3 separate regions of the Homo sapiens genome follow, and regions 2 and 3 are each linked to region 1. Evidence: fine-mapped expression QTL. A gene starts in region 1. Each other region holds a variant in brackets. All regions are shown on one strand. Distances are from middle to middle.

Region 1 (6,604 bases):
GGCAAGGCCCCTTCCCTCTCTGGGCCTCCTCTGTGAGATGGTTGGAATACCAGATCCTTGACATGTCTCTCCAATGATTCTGATAAATGTTTTGGGGGGGACAGGATGGAGGCTTTGATGTGCTGTCAGAGGTGGGCAGGGAGGACTGAGGCCCAGAAAGGGGAATGTCTTGCCCAAAGTAACACAATACCTCGAGGCCAGAGCTGAGAGTGCAGGATCCCAGAGAAAAGAGACATCTACATGCAATATCTGGAGCCAACCCCAATGAGTATGCGGTGAAGAGGAGGGGAGGGGAAAGCAGCAGGGGCAAAGGCAATGGAGTAGGCCGGAGTAGGCCAGAAAGAGGTCAGCCTGCCAAAGGATCCCAGCCAATCAGAGCCAGAGTAGCCAGTCTGGTTACTCTTGCCTCAGTCTGCCCTACCTCACAACATGACTCTCCTTGTCCTCTCTAGAGGGCCTCAGTTTTCCTATCTATAAACTGAGGCTTATCGTGCAGGGGGATCAGTCCAGGAGAAGCAACCTGCCTAAGGTCTCAAGACAGAGTCTAGCCTTGAAGCAGGTCTCTGAAGTCTGGCCTTCACTGTGCTCTTCCCTGATTCCTCTCTGTCCCCCCAATCAAATCCCCAGCCCCTCATCCTGGCATTTGAGACTCTTCTTCACCCACCCTGTTAGAGAGGGCCTCTGGTCTTCATCTTCAGTGATGCTCTTAAGAGTCAATCATAGTATTCTAGTATAGTTGGCCAGGGTGCTCATGTCCTCGGCTGAGCCATGTGAGGACAGGATGTTCTTTGCCCAGAGTAACATCTTGTTCCCTGTGCCCTCACTCTTCAGTCTGGACCTCCGAAAGAGAGGGCTGTTCTAGGTCTTTAAGGTCACATCTAGCTCCAAGATACTGTCTTCGCTGAAGGCCAGAGAAGACAGGCCCCATTGGCTGAGACCTTAAACAGAAACCAGGAGGATGAAGAGTCATGGGCCCAATGTGCCCTAGGGCCTGTTCCCATGTTGAAACTACTTGTCTTCATATGCTTCCTAGCTTGCCCTCGCTCCTTTGCAGCAGAGGGCCCTGCTCCTGGGTGGGAGGTTCCTGGGATTTCCTGGGACCAGACCTTTAAAGTGCCACCTACTTCTGTGAGTAGAATCGGATTGGCAGGGACAAAACTAGATTCAAGAATGTCCCTCCTTAGGTGACCCAAAGGGCTGGCACTGGCTCCCCCAGTTGGGGGTGTGCAGGATGGTTGGGAAGGAATCCTATTATTCATTCAGTAAACACTTATGAGTACTTACTGTGTGCCTGAAGTACTGAACTGGGTGATAGGGATACAGCAGGGAAACAAGATAGAGCAAGTCTTTTTTTTTTTTTCTTTGTTGCCCAGCCTGGAGTGCAGTGGCACAATCTCCGCTCACTGCAAGCTCCGCCTGCCGGGTTCACGCCATTCTCCTGCCTCAGCCTCCCGAGTAGCTGGGACTACAGGCGCCTGCCACCACGCCCGGCTAATTTTTTGTATTTTTAATAGAGACGGGGTTTCACCATGTTAGCCAGGATGGTCTCGATCTCCTGACCTCATGATCAGCCCGCCTCGGCCTCCCAAAGTCCTGGGATTACAGGCGTGAGCCACCGCACCCAGCCAATAGAGCAAGTCTTTTTCCTCCTGGAGCCTAGAGTTCAAGACAAATATTCTTAATATTTTTTGTGCCATGGACCCCTTTGGTGATCTAGTGAAGCCTAATGGGACCTTTCTTTTTCTTTTCTTTTCTTTTTTTTTTTTTTTTTTAGATGGAGTCTCACTCTTGTTGCTCAGGCTGGAGTGCAATGGTGCGATCTCGGCTCACTGCAACCTCCACCTCCTGGGTTCAAGCAATTCTCCTGCCTCAGCCTCCCGAGTAGCTGGGATTACAGGCGCCCGCCACCACGCCCGGCTAATTTTTGTATTTTTAGTAGAGACAGGGTTTCACCATGTTGGCCAGGCTGGTCGGGAACTCCTGACCTCAGGTGATTCACCCGCCTCCGACCTCCCAAAGTTCTGGGATTACAGGCATGAGCCACCATGCCCCACCAGACCTTTTCTCAGAAAAAAAAAATTGTTTAAATTCATAAAATAAAATATCTAGAATTACAAAAGAAATTGATTACATTGAAATATAGTTATTAAAATATGGAAAAAGCAAATATGTGCTATAGTATAATCGTATATGTACTCCCCATTAATCCATTAAATCATAAGATTTAATGGAGGGTCTAATGACTATCATGATTTTAAAATAATGATTGAAATTATATGATTTTCAAGAGATCTGCAACATCTATAATGTGATATGAAAATCTCTGATTTCTATTAGTGACAATCAGTACTGCTACTACTGCTGCTACTATGCCTAGTTACATTCTTTATTGAAAAATGCTAAATTTCAGTTAGAGGAGAGGGAAAATAAAGATGTAATTTTGTTTTATTTTTTTGAGACGGAGTTTCAATCTTGTTGCCCAGGCTGGAGTGCAATGGTACGATCTCAGCTCACGGCAACCTTCGCCTCCCAGGTTCAAGCGATTCTCCTGCCTCAGCCTCCCTAGTAGCTGGGATTACAGGCATGTGCCACCACGCCCGGCTAATTTTGTATTTTTAGTAGAGATGGGGTTTCTCCATGTTGGTCAGGCTGGTCTCGAACTCCGACCTCAGGTGATCCGCCCGCCTCGGCCTCCCAAAGTGCTGGGATTACAGGCATGAGTCACTGCGCCCGGCCATAAAGGTGTAAATTTGTTCCCATCCAAATTCATGGACCTCTCCAAACCCTGTCCCCAGCCTCGATTAGAGGTCTGCAGAATACAAATTAAGAACCCTTGCAAATAGGAGGGTCCTTCCCATCTCTCCTTCCTTCTTAAACAGTTTTCCTTTGGAAGCCTGGGTTTTATTCTGGGTCTTACTGCGCCGACTGCCGGCGGTGTACGGTAAGAAGACGCAAAGACGGGGCGGTGGTGGGGAGTGGTAGCGGGAAGAGGCAGGGCCGGAGCGCGCGAGGGGTGGGGCCTGGCTGTGTGACTTCAAGCCAGTCAGTTTGCCTCTCTGGGCCATAAGTTCTGTCCGCCTGAATACTGGGAAAGAATTGGGAGGAGAGAACTTAATTATTTATGCCCCAGGCAACTGATCTATATTTGCCCTCTCATTTAATCCTCACACATTGTGAGGAAAATTTTAAAACATCTTTCCATTTCCAGATGGTTAAACTGAGGCTCCTAGCGAGGTTGTCACTTGACCAATGTCTCAGCAGGTATCAGGGACTGGTAGGTGACACGCCACATCCCCATAGCCACCTCATCCTCCATGCATGGAATAAGGAACTCTGCTCACTTTGAGCGAGAGAAACCTGGCTTAGGAATCTCTGCAGGTGGGTGTGGAACTGTGAGAAACTAGGGGCAGAATCGCGTCTCTTAGCAGAGCGGTGGCAGTGCAAGGTGGCTTATGGAGAGTAAAACGTCAAAGAAGCCAGGCATCTCGATTGTGCAGTGACTCGGCGCCTGGCGTGGCTTCCGGCTTCCCGCCTGCGTATTCCCAAGTAGCCGCCTGAAGACCTGTCGAATAGACAGGCAAAGGGCCATGACAAGCACTCCTTTCCTGGCCAATCCTATTAAAGGGTGGGCTTGGCTCTTTAACCAATCAAAGTCCCCCGAAGGGGCGGAGTTTTCCTCGGTTTGGCTCTAAGCCTCGGGGGTAAAAATAAAATGTTTCCATCCCCAGCCAATCCCTGGAAAGGCAGAAGGGCACTCCTCCAATGGGAGCCGGGGAGCCGTCGGTAGCGGCGTAGGCCCGTGCCCCTGCTCGCGCTGCAGCCCGTGGAAGGGTTCCGTCCAGCGTATCCTTCAGATCTTGCTGTAGGCCTCTGGTGTCTGTGCGCGCGCGGCAGGGGCGGCGGCGGCGACGGCCGGAGGTGTACGGTGAGAAGCCATAAAGACGGGGCGGTGGGGGGAGTGGCAGCGGGAAGAGGCCGGCCGAAGCGCGCGAGGGGTGGGGCCTGCGCGAGCTTTTACTGGGGCGGCCTCTCAACCCTAGGTCAGCGGGTTGCGGAGGATCGTGCGGGTCGCAAAGGGAAGCCGAGTGCTCCTGCGGCTCCCAGACTGCAACCAGGTGAGTACCCTGCGGAGCGGTCGGTGCCCGTTGCTGCCCTCCCGCGGCCCCACCTCCCACCCTCAGTGTCTTTCGAAACGGTTCCATGCAGGTCTGCCGCTCACGTGATCGTCTGCGTGCGTGTCTGTCTTTGCATCCCCTCTCCCATCTCTGTCTCTGTCCCACTTTTTGAGACGTAGTAGATATAAGATGCTGAATCCTGACCAGTTTAAACTAGCTATGAAACCTTGAGCTATCTCCTTCACCAGCCTGGGCCTCAGTTTCCTCATCTGCCAAATGGGGGTCTGATAATGTGTACCTGAGACAATGCATGTGCATTACTTTGCCCTGCACCCGGTCCTTAGAAAATTTTCAATAAATAATGACTATCTTGACTGAAAAGAATATTGTCTCTCTTGGTTTCTGTCTTTTCTCTGTCTCTGACCCTTCCTCCATTGGATCTTTCTGAATGCTTCTGTCTTTCTCTGTTACTGTTTTTCCTCTTTTTACCCGTCTCTTTCTCAACCCTAAAGAGGTTAGAGGTGCATAGTTTATAGCAATAAGTTTTACCCCCGAGGACATGAGCTTAGCCTGGGGCTCCGACCTGTTCTGTGGGTAAAAAATGGAGCCTGGCTTTGGGTTGCTTCTGGTGTCATTGAAGAGAGAACTCTCTTTGCTCCCCAGCCTACTCTGTTAAACAGGTAGAGACACCCAAAGTTGGGAGCAACTTAGATTAAAAACCACTTTTTAATAGCCCCTTATCCTATATAATGTTAGTCACCACAGGAAGCCCACAGATCTCCTGGTTATGTCTCCATACAGCCCTGGACATCCTATTTTCTATTTCCATCCTGAAATCCTTTGACCAGGCCTTAAGGAACTCACCTTCAGTTATCAGCAAAATTCCCTCCATTCTCATCCTGGCTTCTGAATACTCCCTTTATTTTCTTGCTATGCTTTGGTCGTTCTCATACCTGTTGGACCCAACATTGCTTTTTTTTTTTAATAAGGTGTATTTTGAAATGCTTCACTATTCTAAAATGAAATGGATAGAAAATAGAATCTGTCTACACCCATAATTCCCTGAAAACCAATATAATGCCCTAATTGTAATATAGAGAGTAGTAAAGGAAGAGTAATATATAATATTATATTATACATATATCGCACATATATATGCAAAGACTGGGATATGACTCCATTAGAAGACATGATGAAATGGTCTTACACTTAATGATAGTGACAGCTACATGTGTGTTGATTGGTGATTCAGAAGCCACAGGTAGAGTGACACAGTTTTCCTAAATAATGAACAATTCTTCACAAAGTTCTAAACAAAACAATGTGGAAGAGTTTCTCAGTTTATATGGTCGTTAAATTTCTGGAAAAATCAGTATATATTAATATCCATGATGAGACCCTCTTAATCTCCCTGACCTTATCTCCCACCACTCTCCCCCCTTGCTCACTCTATCTACCCATGCTGGCCACCTTACTATTACTTGAACACCTTAGGCACACTTCCGCCTCAGGGGTTTTGCATTCCGTGTATCTGGAATGCTCTTTCCTCAAATACCCACAAGGCTCAGGCCCTTGCTTCCTTCAGGCCTCTACTCAGCTGTCACTTTCTCAGAGGGCCCCCCAACCATCCTGTTTAAAATTGCAGCTCTCCCCTAATATGCCCCTGCTCTGTCTGTTCCATGGTATTCTACACCTTTTTCACAGTGTAGCATTAACTGCTTAGTATGTTTGCTGTTTATTGTCTGACTCTCCCACTCAATTATAAGCTCCAGAAGGGCAGGGATTTTTGTCTTTTTTGTTCTATGATACATTCCTATTACCTAAAATAGTGCTTGACACCTAGTAGACTTTCTCAATGAATGTTTGTTGAATGAATAAAAGAACAAATGAACAGGTTTTTCACCTACATTACTGGTGAGATATTCTAAAGTTGTATGGAATGTGGTATGATTCTTTGTGGTGTGGAGCTGTCCTGTACACTGCAGAGGGCTGAGCATCCCTGGTCCATAGCTAGGGTTGTCACTGATGATCTCCAATTATTGTCACAGTCAAAAATGCCCCCCAAACAGGGCCGGGTGTGATGGCTCACGCCTGTAATCCCAGCACTTTGGGAGGCCAAGGTGGGCAGATCGCTTGAGTCCAGGAGTTCGAGACCAGCCTGGCCAACATGATGAAACCCCGTCTCTACAAAAAATACAAAAATTAGCCGGGTGTTGTGGTGCACGCCTGTGGTCCCAGCTACTTAGGAGGCTGAGATGGGAGGATTGCTTGAGCCCAGGAGGCAGAGGTTACAGTGAGCCAGGATTGCACCACTGCACTCCAGCCTGGGTGACAGCGAGACCCTGTCTCAAAAAAAAAAGCAGTAAAAAATGGGTCGGGCACTGTGGCTCACACCTGTAATCCCAGCACTTTGGGAGGCCGAGGTGGGTGGATCACCTGAGGTCAGGAGTTCAAGACCAGCCTGGCCAACATGGTAAAACCCCGTCTCT
Region 2 (6,604 bases), 81 kb after region 1:
CAGGCAGTTCAGCAGTTCCTGGGCGGGTGGCCCTTCCCATCTGAGTACCCCTCAATGTGCCTGCTCCTCCTGGGATCCTTTCTGCTCCCTTGGGCCTCTGTTTTTGGTCTGCAATGGTTGGTTATGTAGAGGGATCAGTATTGGGGTTGTCCCAAGCCAGGCTACAGGTTGAGCAGGTAGCCACATAGGCCACATAGCAGGACGGGCCCAGCTGGGGACTCTGATGTCTGCAATTAGGGGTGGCAGGAAGTAATGGATGCACAGGCGCTGACTTGGCCTGGCCTTAAGCCTTAGTCTAGCGGAAAGGTCTGGCTGTTTACCTGCCTTCCTATTTGGAGCTGATCCCAGGACCAAACGGGATGCCATCGTACCAAGGGCAGGGAGATGAAGGGAGGCCCTCAGAAGAGAATGAGGCCTAAATGCCAGGTAAAGGGCAGGAAGGGGTTCAATCCCAGCAGCACCTCCTGGTGGTAGTTGGGGAAATAAAATGGCCAGAGAGGAGACTGGCCCTGAAGGCATCTCCAGAGCTTGAGTCCCTCAGTAGCCAACCTGAGCTCCTAAACCCCTCTGGACTAGGTCCCCTTCTCCACTTAACCTGCCTCCTCAAGAAAGACAGGATGGGGCCGGGCACAGTGTGGCTCGCGCCTGTAATCCTAGCATTTTGGGAGGCCGAGGCAGGTGGATCACCTGAGGTCAGGAGTTCGAGACCAGCCTGGCCAACGTGGTGAAACCCCGTCTCTACTAAAAATTTAAAAATTAGCCGGGCATGGTGGTGGGCGTCTGTAATCCCAGCTACTTGGGAGGCTGAGGCAGGAGAATCACTTGAACCTGGGAGGTGGAGGTTGCAGTGAGCCAAGATTGTGCCACTGCACTCCAGCCTGGGCAACAGAGTGAGACTCGGTCTCAAAAAGAAAGAGAGAGGAAGAGAGAAAAGAAAGGAAAGAAGAAAGAAAAGAAAAAGAAATAAAAAGAAGAAATAGAAGAAAAGAAGAAAGAAAAAAGAAAAAGAGGAAAGAAAGAAAAGAGAGGAAGAAGAGGGAGGGAGGGAGGGTGGGAGGGAGGACCTTCTGGCAGGTGCCCTGGGGAAAGGGGGATGGAGCTGGAGCATGATGTGGTGGTGGGGGCGGGTGGGTCTCTTCACCTCAGAGGACTGGGTGACCAACACTGCCTTGAAGCTGCCGTCTTTCTGGAGGCCATCACAGTCTGCGGGGGTCGCAAGTCAGGGTACCCCCAGTGACCCTGGCCCTATAAAGCCTTGCATTTCTCCACCTGATCTCCCTCCCATCTTACTTCCAGTGCCCCAGCCGTTCCCAGCAGGACAAGCTGGGCCCCACCGTCTGGTTTCTAGGCCTTAGCTACTGCTGAGGTGGATTCTCCTCCTTCTCACAACCTGAGAAACCCCTACTCATCTCTCCAGACAGTTCATCACCACCTTCTCTGGGGTCTTCCTTCACCTTCCTTCAGACACAGAAAAGTGAAAATATTAGCTATGAAAAATATATAGTTGAAAGAAAGAACACAATAGATGGGACAAATAGCAGGTTGACCACAGATGAAGAATGAATAAGTGAATTGGGAGATCAGATTGAGGACCTCTCCCAGAAAGCAGCAGGAAAGAATAAAAATATAGAAAACAATAATTTAAAAAACAAGAGAAATGGAGAAATGTCCGCATTTTGATAATAGCCTTAGAGTATAATCATAAATAAATAAAGAAAATATTTGAAGAATGGAGGTAAATATCCCAGGAATAAAGTTTGCTGAATACAAAATCAGCTTACGAAATTCTATTGTATTTCTATATAAAAACAAATACAGCTGAAAAACAAAAAATTAAATTATTTAAATAGCATTAAAAAATCACTTACCTAGAAATCCCAGGAATAAATCTAACAGACAATGTGTAAATCCTTTCTGGAGAAAACTATAGCACTTGCAAAAGAGAGATTAAGGAAGATGACCAATGCCGGGCATGGTGGCTCACTCCCGTAATCCCAGTAATTTGGGAGGCCGAGGCAGGAGGATCACCTGAGGTCAGGAGTTTGAGACCAGCCTGGCCAACATGGTGAAACCCCGTCTCTACTAAAAATACAAAAATCAGTTGGGCGTGGTGGTGTGCACCTATAATCCCAGCTACTCGGGAGGCTGAGAGAAAAGAATCACTTGAATCCGGGAGGCAGAGGTTGCAGTGAGCCAGGATCGAGCCATTGCACTCCATCCTGGGCGACAAGAGTGAAACTTCATCTCAAAAAAAAAAGACCACCCTGGGCAACATGGTGAAGCCCTGTCTCTGCAAAAAATACAAAAATTAGCCAGGTATGGTGGTGTATGCTTGTAGTCCCAACTACTTGGGAAGCTGTGGCAGGAGGATCACTTGAGCCTGGGAGGCGGAGGTTGTAGTGAGCTAAGATCGCACTATTGCACTCTAACCTAGGTGACAGAGTAAGACACTGTCTCAAAAAAAGAAAAAGAAAAAAAAAAGAGTAAATAACGCCTGTAATCCCAGCACTTTGGGAGGCCAACGCGGGAGGATCACTTGAGCCCAGGAGTTCAACATTAGCCTCGGCAACAGAGTGAGACCTTGTCTCTACAAATTTTTTTTTAATTAGCTGGGTGTGGTGTCACGCACCTATAGTCCCAGCTACTTGGGAGGCTAAGGTGGGATCACTTGAGCCTGGGAGGTCAAGGCTGCAGTGAGACATGATCACACCACTGCACTCCAGCCTGGGTGACAGAGTGAGACTCTGTCTCAAAAAAAAAAAAAAAGATGTAAATAAATGAAGTGAGATACCATATTCACATGCATAAGCTGCTGAACTCAGTATTACAAGAATGCCAGTTCTCCCCAAGTAGCTCTACAGATTCAATGTGATTCCAATTAAACCCTGATGGGTGGGTTGGTTGGTTTGTTTCTTTTGGTGGAACTTGACTGATTCTAAAATGTATATATTAAT[A/G]GAAATGAAAAAGTTAAGAATAGCCATGACTCCTGAAGAAGAACTATGATGGAGGACTTGATCTCTCAGATGTTAAGGGTTTTTTAAAAAAATAAAGCTATAGTAATTAAGAGTGTAGTACTGGCAGCCGGGCATGGTGGCTCACGCCTGTAATCCCAGCACTTTAGGAGGCCAAGGCAGGAGGATGACTTGAGGTCAGGAGTTCGAGACCAGCCTGGCAAACATGGTGAAACTCCGACTCTACTAATCCGACTGTACTAAAAATACAAAAATTAGCCAGGTGTGATGGCAGGTGCCTGTAATCCCAGCTACTTGGGAGGCTGAGGCAGAAGAATTGCTTGAACCCGGGAGGCGGAGGTTGCAGTGAGCTGAGATTGTGCCACTGCACTCCAGCCTGGGTGACAGAGCGAGACTCCATCAAAAAAAAAGAAAAAAGAAAAGAAGGATGAATCCATGCATATTCGCATACTTGATTTATCAAAAATGTGTCTCTGTAGAGCCATGGGAGCAGGGCAGTCTTTTCAACAAATGGTGCTGGGACAATTGGGTGCCCAGTTAAAAAAATAATAATAAATAACTAAAGCTAAATTGGGTATTTACGTCACATTATATATTTTTTAAAACTCAAATGATTCCCAGGTAGATTATAGACCTAAGTGTGAAAAGCAAAGAAAGTAACAAATGGGGTATATTCTTGACATTAGAATAGTAAAGTATTTATTTTTTAAAAAATAGAGATGGGAGGTCTTGCTACATTGCCCAGGCTGGTCTCAAACTCCTGGCCTCAAGTGATCCTCCCACCTTGGCCTCCCAAAGTCTTGGGATTACAGGCATGAGCCACCGCGCTGGGCCTGGGATGGTAAAAGATTTCTTAAACAAGACACCAAAAGTACAAACCATGAAAAGAAAGGACTGATAAAATTGACTCCGTCAAAAATAATAACTTCTTCACCCAGAGACACCATAAATGGTACAAAGGAAAACCACAAAATGGGAAAATTTGTTTGCATCACTTAAAATCAGATTCCATATCCAGATCGTAAGATGAAGTTCTACAATTCAACAAGAGAAAGATAGATAATCAATAGAAAAATATGTGAAAGAGTTGAACAGTTTTACAAGAGAGTACTTGAATGGCCAGTAAAAAAATATGAAAAGGTAGGCCTGGTGTGCTGGCTCATGCCTGCAATCCCAGCAACTTGGGAAGCCCAGGTGGGAGGATCAGTTGAGACCAGGAGTTGAAGACCAGCCTGGGCAACATAGTGAGACCATCTCTACAAATTTTTTTTTTAATATCCAGGCATGATGGTGGCATGCCTGTAGTCCCAGCTGCTTAGGAGCCTGAGGCAGGAGGACTGCCTGAGCCCAGCCCTGTAGTTCAAGGCTGCAGTGAGCTGTGATCATGCTACTGCACTCCAGCCTGGGCAACAGAGCAAGACCCTGTCTCTAAAAAGAAAAAAATATTAAAGGTGCTCAACTTCATTAATTATCAGGAAAATGCCTGTTTAACACACATGAGATACCATTTTACAATCCTCAGCTTGGCAAAAATTTAAAATTGACTGTTCCAAGGGTTGGGAAATATGTGGAATAATAGGACCTTTCATACTCTGCTGGTTGGAATATACATTAGTAAAACTACTTCTTCAGAAAAGTTTGACACTAGCTAGAAAAGTTAAAGATGTGCATACCTTTTGTCCCAATAAGTCATACACCCTACGGAAATGTATGCTTAGGGCCGGGTGCGGTGGCTCATGCCTGTAATCCCAGCACTTTGGGAGGCCAAGGTGGGCAAATCACCTGAGGTCAGGAGTTCGAGACCAGCCTGGTCAACATGGTGAAACCCCATCTCTACTACAAATACAAAAATTAGCTGGGTGTGGTGGTGCACACCTGTAGTCCCAGCTACTCGGGAGGCTGAGGCAGGAGAATGGCTTGAACCTGGGAGGTGGAGGTTGCAGTGAGCTGAGATTGCACCACTGTACTCCAGCCTGGGCGACAGAGCAAGACTCTGTCTTAAAACAAAACAAAAAAAAGTCTGCTTATGTATACCAGGAAATATGTACAAAAATGTTCTTGCAGCATTGTTTATACAGTTAAATATCAGAATGTTCCAAATGCCTTTCAAAAGTAGAGTTGACAGATTATGGTAGATTCATAAAATGAAATACTGTTGCCGAACACCAGGGGTTCAGCCTAGGCCTGGTTGCTTGCCGCACAGAAAGCCAATCACTGAGATGAATATTGCCAGGGAAGAACAGCTTTAATGCCAGTAATGTCAGCCAGGAGATGGGAGACCAGTCTCAAATCCATCTCTCCAATTGACTAAAGTTAGGGGTTTATATAGTAGGGAAGGAACGTAAAACAAGAATTAGGGAGGAGTAAGGAAGAGGAGTTGGTCAACGGGCAGCAGGTGGTTGGATGAGGGGTCTGGTGTCTCACCGTAACCATATGCAGGAAAACAGAAATTCGGGAGGTATAAAGAAGAGGAGTTTGTCAACAGGCAGCAGCCATGTCTCATTGTCTGGATGTGGTGATATGGGAGATTTCAGTTCCTCGATTCTCTCTGGGAGGCCTGATGGTTGGTTTCCTGAGAAAGGAACTCAGATAAAAACAAATATAAGTTTCTCAATTTTCAGTTTAGTGCAAAAACTGGGTTGATTTCAATACTATACAGGCAAGAAGATAAAGCACAGCTATATGTTAAAACGTGGATCAATCTTAAAAGCATAATGTTGAATGAAAGAAACCAAACACAAGAGAATACATACTGTACGACTCTATGATGTTAATAAAAACAGGCAAAACTAAACTACACAAATAGGAAGTCATGCTTAAGTGGTAAAATGTTAAAGAAAAGTAAGGAAGTGGTGACCATAAAAGTCAATGTTTGGATCCTGAATCAAACAATCTAACTATTAAAAGATATATTTTGGTCGGGTGTGGTGGCTCACACCTGTAATCCCAGCACTTTGTGAGGCCAAGATGGAAGGATCACTTGAGGCTGGAAGTTAGAGACCAGACTGGGCAACAGAGCAAAACTCTATCTCTACAAAAAAAATTCAAATTAGGTGCACTTGGTTTCTCAAGTCACCCACTTAGCCCTCTTCCAAGTTGTACTTTCCTTCTTTTCTTTCCTTTCCTTACTGTTCTAAAGCTTTTAAATAAACTTTCACTCCTGCTTTGAAAAAAATAAAAATTAGCCAGGTGTGGTGGTGTATGCCTGTAGGCCCAGCTACTCGGGAGGCTGAAGCTGGAGGATCACTGGAGCCCAGAAGCTTGAGGTTACAGTTTGAGCTATGATTGTGCTGCACTCCAGCCTGGATGACAGAACAAGACCCTGCATTTTAAAAAAATGTTTTTTATTTGTAAATAATTTTTCAAATATGTTTTTAGTTAAATTGGGAACATCTGAATATAATGACATTCATTTGACTATGATGACAGTAAGGAATGATTGTGAATTGTGTTAGGTGTACTAATCGTTTTGTAATTACATAAGGAAATGTCTTCATGTCATGTTTCACGATTTTAAAAGGCAAATAAAACAGGAAACAATGTTTGTATGAATGCCCTCTAATTGTAACAGGAATGATCCTTCAGGTAAATAATGTCCTTGCATCTGTGAAACTTCTACCTACAGACACTAA
Region 3 (6,422 bases), 140 kb after region 1:
TCCGGCTTGGCTTGGCCTTGGGGTTTGCACTGGGGGGGTTGGCTGTGCCAGGGGGCCCAGAGGCGTGCAGCGGGCCATGGGGGGAGGTGGGTGGAAGGGGTGAGTGCGGGGTGTGAGGGGAGGGTGGGGGGAGGGGTGGATAGGAGGGGTGGGGTGGGATGGGTGAGTGTGGTGACAATGGTGACTGGGGGTGGTGGGGGTGGGAGTAGGAGCCCCCTGGTGGCCGGGATCCAGGGCCCCCAGCCGCGCCTGCTGCTGGCATCATCTGTGGGTGGTGGCTGAAGATGAAGTGCTTAGGGCCCTGTTTGTGGGCTGGAGGGTGCTGGGGGGCAGGACTGTACAGGGGCAGTGGGGATGTGGGCTGGTGCAGGGGGTGGCGGCCATGTGGAGCAAACTGAGGGTGTCCTCCAGCCCCCCGTCTGGGTGCCCTGCCTGGCCGGCCCAAGGTATAGTGTTGGGGCCCTGGGACTGGGCCATGGGCGTGGAAGTGGCGATGTGGCCCCACAGGTGGGGCTGAGGCGGGAGGCGGTGGAATGGAGCCCAGCTGGGGCAAGGGTGGGGGCTGCTGGGGAGGTGGGGGAAGAGAGGGCTGCTGGGGTGGGAGGTAGGGTGGCGGGGCAGGGCCCGGTCCTTGGCAATACTGGGCATGCAGGGCCTGGAGCTTGGACTGCCCATCAGGCAGCACCCCCAGGCCACCGTGGCTATGGCCATGATGGTGGTGGTGGTGGTGGTGGTGCGTGGAAGAAGCAGATGAAGAGGAGGCAGAGGCCTGGCCTGTTGGCGGTGGTGGCATCTGGAAGGGCCCCTTGCCCCGCTTGCTTCCAAATAGGGAGCCCAGGAAGGATGAGGAGTTGGAGACGGGCCTCTGGCTCTTGTACTCCTCTGGCGGCGGGGGTGGGGGCGGAGGTGGCATCCTCTGGTGAGGGCGTGGACTGCTAATAACAGACCCCTGGAAGCGGGGAGGGGGGAAGTCAGGCCAGGCTAGATGCCCTAAACCCCCAGCCCTAAATTCCACCCCTGTCCCTGAGGGCTGGAGCTGGGGAGACAGCAAACCCCAAGTTGTAATAAAAACCAAATCACAGTCCGGTACGCGTATGTGGAGCTCCCCAGCTTGCAAAGCTCGGCTGTCACATCCACTATCTCAGCTGAGCCTCAGCTGGGAGAGGAGAAATTAGCAGTACCTCCTCCTCATCCCCATTTTGCAGGCAGGGAAAAGGTTAGGCCCAGAGAGGCAGAGTGACTCGCCCAGGGTCAAAGAGCAGGACTTGGAGGTAAGAGCTTCTCGTGGCCCAACTCCAAGGGCATCCCTACTCGCCGTCGGCCCTGGGGTTGAGAGGGGGCACGGGAGAGTGGAAGACAGACTGAGAGACAGGCAGAATGAGGACAGACAGAGTTGAGGACAGATGGAGAGAGTGGTTGGCTGGGAGAGGCAGCCGCATGGTTCCCAGCAGGGAAGAGGGGGAGCAACAGGTCCCCTCCTCCTCTGGGTCTCCATGGCCGGGGCAGGGCTCATGCAGAGGACGAGTGGGGCAGGAGCTGGCACTTACTTCGATGGTGCTGTCCAGCGATCCCACGCTGTTACGCCGCCCCCGCTTCCCTGCACCCACAAGCAAGGAGCCCAGCGTCAGAGCAGCAACCCCCCCCCTACCCTGCTGGGCTCCAGAGCTGGGCACCAGGACTGGGCCCCTCCCGGGGACAGACACCCCATTATCCCTTTCCCCCATTGAAGAGGGGGAGGCGGGGAGGAGGAGAGGTGGAGAAGGAGGAGAAAGAGGAGGAAAAGATGGAGAAGGAGGAGTGGAGGTACAGGAGAGACAGAAGAGGGAGAAGAGGAGGAGAGGGGGAGCAGCGAGAGAGAGGGACCAAGACTGTGGCCCCACTTCACACTCCCTGGCCCAAAAGCTGGGCTCCCCCTGCTCTGACCTGGCTCCCAGGCCCCCTGTGGCGCAGCGCCCAGGGCTCTGGGTGAAGGCAGGGTGCGTGCATGTGTGGCAGGTGGAGGGAAGGCTGGCGGCCAGTGACAGGAGGCAAAGAGGACACCCGGTCCCGTGTCTCCCCAGCCAGGGCAGGGGCCCAGAGGGCTTACCTGCATCAGAGAGGTCTCGCAGGGAACTGCTGAGTGCGCCCCGTTTGAGCCCATCGCCTGCCCCGTAAGTGTCCTCCAGGCTACTGCGGGCCATCGTCCCATTCACTGAGTCCTTGGCCCCTCCAGGCTGTGAGGCGTTAGGCCGCATCATACCTTTCTGCTTCTCCAGCTCCGCTGGGTGGCAGTCGGGGAGACAGGGAGCAAAGGTCAGGAACAGGAGTGAGAGCCCATCTGACTGACCCTAGCCCTCCATGGGCCATTCTCCTTCCTCCTCCCTCCTCCCTCCCTCTGTCCCCAGGCTTCGTGTTTTGCCCCTTGGACGACCAGCCCT[T/C]GTCTCCCCCAAAACTGCAGCTCCATCACCGAAGCACCCTTAGTGCCCAGCTCCTGTCTTGCACCCTCCCTTCCTGCTCAGCCTTCCCTTCATCCCTCTTGGTGCCTGCTCTCCCTGTTCCCTTTCCCTTCCTTTCACCCTTCTGACTTCTCCCCTCCCATGCCCTCTTGCAATCAGGTCTCCCAAAGCACCCCTGCCCTTCAAAAAAGAGCTTCATGGCAGATGGTTCACAGTAAGGATGGTAAGGCCCTTCTAGCCTATGGCAAAGGGCAATCTTTCCAGAGTTCAGTCAGTTCTCAGATACCTTGCTCCGGAGCAGAGGGGCTCCTGGAAGGGCAGGAGCAGGAAACTGACAGGAATCAAATCCTCTTATTATGTGCCAGGCAGTATGCTGGGCGCTACACATACTTGATCTCTCTCAGTCCTCACAACAGTTCTGAGGTCAGTATTAGCATCCACATTGTGCAGAGGAAGAAACTGAGTATCCGAGAAGTCTTAGAGCTTGCCCAGGGTCATACAGCTGGAAATGGCAGAGCCGACATTCTGGAAGCAGGTCTGCCTGATTCCAGAGCTTGGGTGCTTCCGGCCTCCTACAGCCCCACCTCCCCACGGAGCTCATAGAAACACGTGTCTACTGGCCTCCCCTCGTCTTGGGCTACTAATCCCTCTCTCAGGATTTCCCCAGGGTCTCAAAGGATCTGGTGAACTGAAATTTCTATCCCTGCCTCGCTGAGAAGTAGAGTGGCCCTGGAGCTGTGAAGGCCTCACCAAGGAGCTGTCCGCCGCCTCGTCTCTGTCTGCCTGCCTCTTTCTCCTTAACACCATGTTACTTAACTGTGACTGCTTAGCCTGGAGAAGAGAAAACTTGGAGGGCATCGGGAGGAATGAGATGTAATCACTATTTTCCATTATATATATATGATCAAAATGACTTGGTGTGGCCCCTGGGGGCTGAGAGGATAGCCCACTGGGATTCAGCTCAGGAATTGATATGTGGGCAGAGGAGGAGAGAGGGTGGGACAGGAAATACGGATTTTTTGAATGCCTAAGATGTGTTGGGACATTTCGGCTACCTTGTCTCATTTCATCTCCATGACTCTGTGAAGGAGACTTCATTACCCCAATTTCGTATAGGAAGAAACTGGGGCTTGGCAGGTTAGGCAATTTGCTGCAGTTCACCCAGATAATGAGTAGTATACCTGGGATCTAAAACTATAGTCCTACCTCCAATACTCTGATTCTTCTCCCTGATACCTTTCACTAGAAGGAATAGTTGGCTCATAATTAGAGTTCAGGATAATAATGGGGTTGGGAGGTAATGAGCCCCTTGTCACTGAAGGTATTCAAGCAGAGGCTGAAGAATTCTTGAAATGAGGATGGGAAGGTTGGACAAGCTAACCCTCAACTCTGAGATTCTCTGAGGATAGGATTCTTGGTTTCTGCAGGGTACTGTTTCAGGAGAGCAGGGAGGAGACATGGCTGGGCTACTCACACTCCACACGGTATTTCTCCATCTCCTGCACCTCCGCAATGGACTCGCGCAGGTCGGATGTAAAGCGCAGCCGGTCCTGGAGGCTGGGGGCATTGAAGATGATGAGGACTTTTCGCTCCCCACCAGGTACTGCAGACAGCAACTTGATCCCAAACTGGTAATCTGTGGAGAAAGGGGAGACTGGGCACCTCTGTTGGGACTGGTGCAAGGTGGCTCATACATAAAATAATTTTTCTTTTCTGCTCTTTTTTTTCTGAGACAACATCTCTCTGTCACCCAGGCTGGAGTGCAGTGGTGCCATCATGGCTCACTGCAGCCTTGAACTCCTGGGCTCAAGTGATCCTTCTGCCTCAGCCTCCTGGGTAGCTGGGACCATGGGCACGCACCACATGCGCAGATTTTTTTTTATTTTCAGTAGAGATGGGGTCTCACTATGTTGCCCAGGCTGGTTTCGAATTCCTGGGCTCAAGCGATCCTCTTGCCTTGGCCTCCCAAAGTGCTGGGATTACAGGTGTGAGCCACCATGCCTAGCCCATGAAATAATTTTTCTACTGTCTAACTCTGATCATGCCTCTTCTCTGCTTGAGCATGTTTAGCAGCTCCCCTTTGCCCCAAAGCCCTCAAACTCCTGGTAGCTGTGGCCCTCTTACTCCCTGTACTGCAGGATGTAAAGGCACACAACTATGCACTGCTCTCTCGAAACCCTTTCCTTCTCACCTCTGCCTCAACTCACATTGCTTCTGCTGCCAGGAATACCACGCAACAAAGCTCCTCCTGGTTCATCCTTCAGAGCACAGCATGATCACCGTCTCTTTGGCCCACCAGAGAACACATGCACTGTGGTTCTCTGCAAGACCATGAGCTAACCAGGGGCTAGACCCAAGTCATACTCCACCCTGGCCTGCCCCTCATCCTGGGACCAAGTAGGTGCTTTGGAGACCCTTAGTCCGGTTGTAAGGGACTCCGAAAACTGGAGCTGGTATAGATGACGGGTGAGCATGGGGGCCATGACATAGACTCTCAGGAGCTGGGATCCAAGAAGGGACTCACATGAATTCTGGAAGAGCTGCATGTGCATTTCCACGAGGGGGAAAGACTGACGGAAACTGTACGTCACCAAGATCTTCTTCTTCTGGAAAATTTTGGTGACCTTTGGCAGGGGTGGGAAAAAGACAAGAGGCAGCGCTTTGGGTGGGGGATTTCCACGTGGCACCTATTTCTGGTAACCACCCTCCCCTCCCACCCCATTAACAGACACACACACACAAACACACATGCCCACAAGCTGGGGAGAATGGAAGCTTGAGGGACAGAATGGGAGACATGGAAGAAAACGCAAGTTCCTGATGTAATGACCACGCACCACAGACATTTACCACATTTCCAGAAACTAACTGAATCCTGCTTCCTCCAGGAAGCCTGCTCCAACATCCCACAGAGATTTGTAAACCCCTTTTCTGAGCTCCAGAATGGTGATTCAGTGCCTTTCCCTTGTCAGGCACTATGCTAGTCCTCTGAGTGTGTGATCGCCCCCTGCTGGACTGGAGGGCAGGAGTCTGGTTGTCGGGTTCTGTCACCAGGCCTTACCAGAGCCTGCACTTAATGGCAATCTCTGCTGAACCCATGTAGAGAGTTAATAAGTCTTCCTCTCAACAACCCAATATCTTTGTCGAGTACTTGGGCACTCTGGACTCAACTAACACAGGCTGCAAACACCTCAGGCGGTCTGCAAGTGGCTCGTAAAAGGAAATGTTTTGATTTCAGGATGGCACAATGACGCAAAGCACTTTTTTAGGTCCTTTGGGCTGTGAGCTCCCTGAGAACAGGGACTAAGTCTGATTCATCCTGGCATACCCAGTGCCTAGCATAGAGCTGGACATACACCAGTTTCAGTACCTGAGGGATGTCTACACATTGACTGTGTGGGCCAGGTACTCCCTGGGGTAGGGCAGATTCCACATATAACCTCTTATTTCATTTCATCCTCATGACAATCCTGTGAAGTAGGGGTTAGTTCCATTTCACAGAGGAGGAAACTAAGGCTCAGAGGGAGCATGGAAATACTTCGGCTAAAGCAGCAATGCTCAACTGGGGGTGATATTGCCCCCAGAGGACACGGAGCAACATCTGGAGACATTTTTGGTTGAAGGGTTGCTACTAGCACCTAGTAGGTAGAGACCAGGGTGCTGCTAAACATCCTACAGTGCACAGGACAGTCCCCGCAAAGAATTATCCAGCCCCAAATGTCAACAGTGATGAGACTGAGAAACCCTGCTCTAAAGGAGAGAAGACCACAGGGAGAACAGGATCAAGAGAGTCCTCAAATCCCTGGAGAGCTGTCTTGGAGCAGAGGTACAACACTTGTTCTTTGTGATGCCAAGGGTTGAGTGCAGATGGCTGGAAGAAACCCACAGGGAGACAAATTCTAGCAGTCAGAGCTGCCTAACAAGGCAACTGGCTGCCTTAGAGGAAGGCGGCTTTCTGTCCCTGCAGTCATACATCCAGTGGGCCAT

Which allele goes with the higher level. Alleles are on the strand shown, and positions count from the first base shown. SD is a standard deviation of normalised expression in the study named. Not every link is listed here.
For the expression in stomach of the gene that starts at base 3,783 in region 1, C is the high allele of the variant in region 3 and T is the other (moderate effect, 0.42 SD a copy in GTEx).

Evidence for each region. PIP is the estimated chance that this variant, and not a neighbour inherited with it, causes the effect. A credible set is the group of variants that fine-mapping cannot tell apart.
Region 2: its variant is the best candidate, but not a certain one, in a credible set for the expression of KANTR in whole blood (TOPMed, PIP 0.86).
Region 3: its variant is the best candidate, but not a certain one, in a credible set for the expression of KANTR in stomach (GTEx, PIP 0.80).

What each region holds. Positions count from the first base shown.
Region 1 is chrX:53,090,360-53,096,963 of GRCh38, forward strand. It overlaps KANTR (KANTR integral membrane protein), which reads left to right and starts at 3,783. Exons shown (of 3, transcript NM_001397448.1): 1 at 3,783-3,925. RefSeq lists enhancers at 2,875-3,699, 3,412-3,471, 3,782-3,901 and a silencer at 3,962-4,111.
Region 2 is chrX:53,171,079-53,177,682 of GRCh38, forward strand. It overlaps a transcript of KDM5C not described here. Among named protein-coding and RNA genes, the nearest start is that of MIR6895, 21 kb to the right of the region's middle. The variant A/G (reference allele first, on the strand shown) is at 2,955.
Region 3 is chrX:53,234,236-53,240,657 of GRCh38, forward strand. It overlaps IQSEC2 (IQ motif and Sec7 domain ArfGEF 2), which reads right to left. Exons shown (of 15, transcript NM_001111125.3): 11 at 4,960-5,059; 12 at 3,910-4,071; 13 at 2,087-2,260; 14 at 1,548-1,597; 15 at 1-949. Among named protein-coding and RNA genes, the nearest start is that of KDM5C, 12 kb to the left of the region's middle. The variant T/C (reference allele first, on the strand shown) is at 2,418.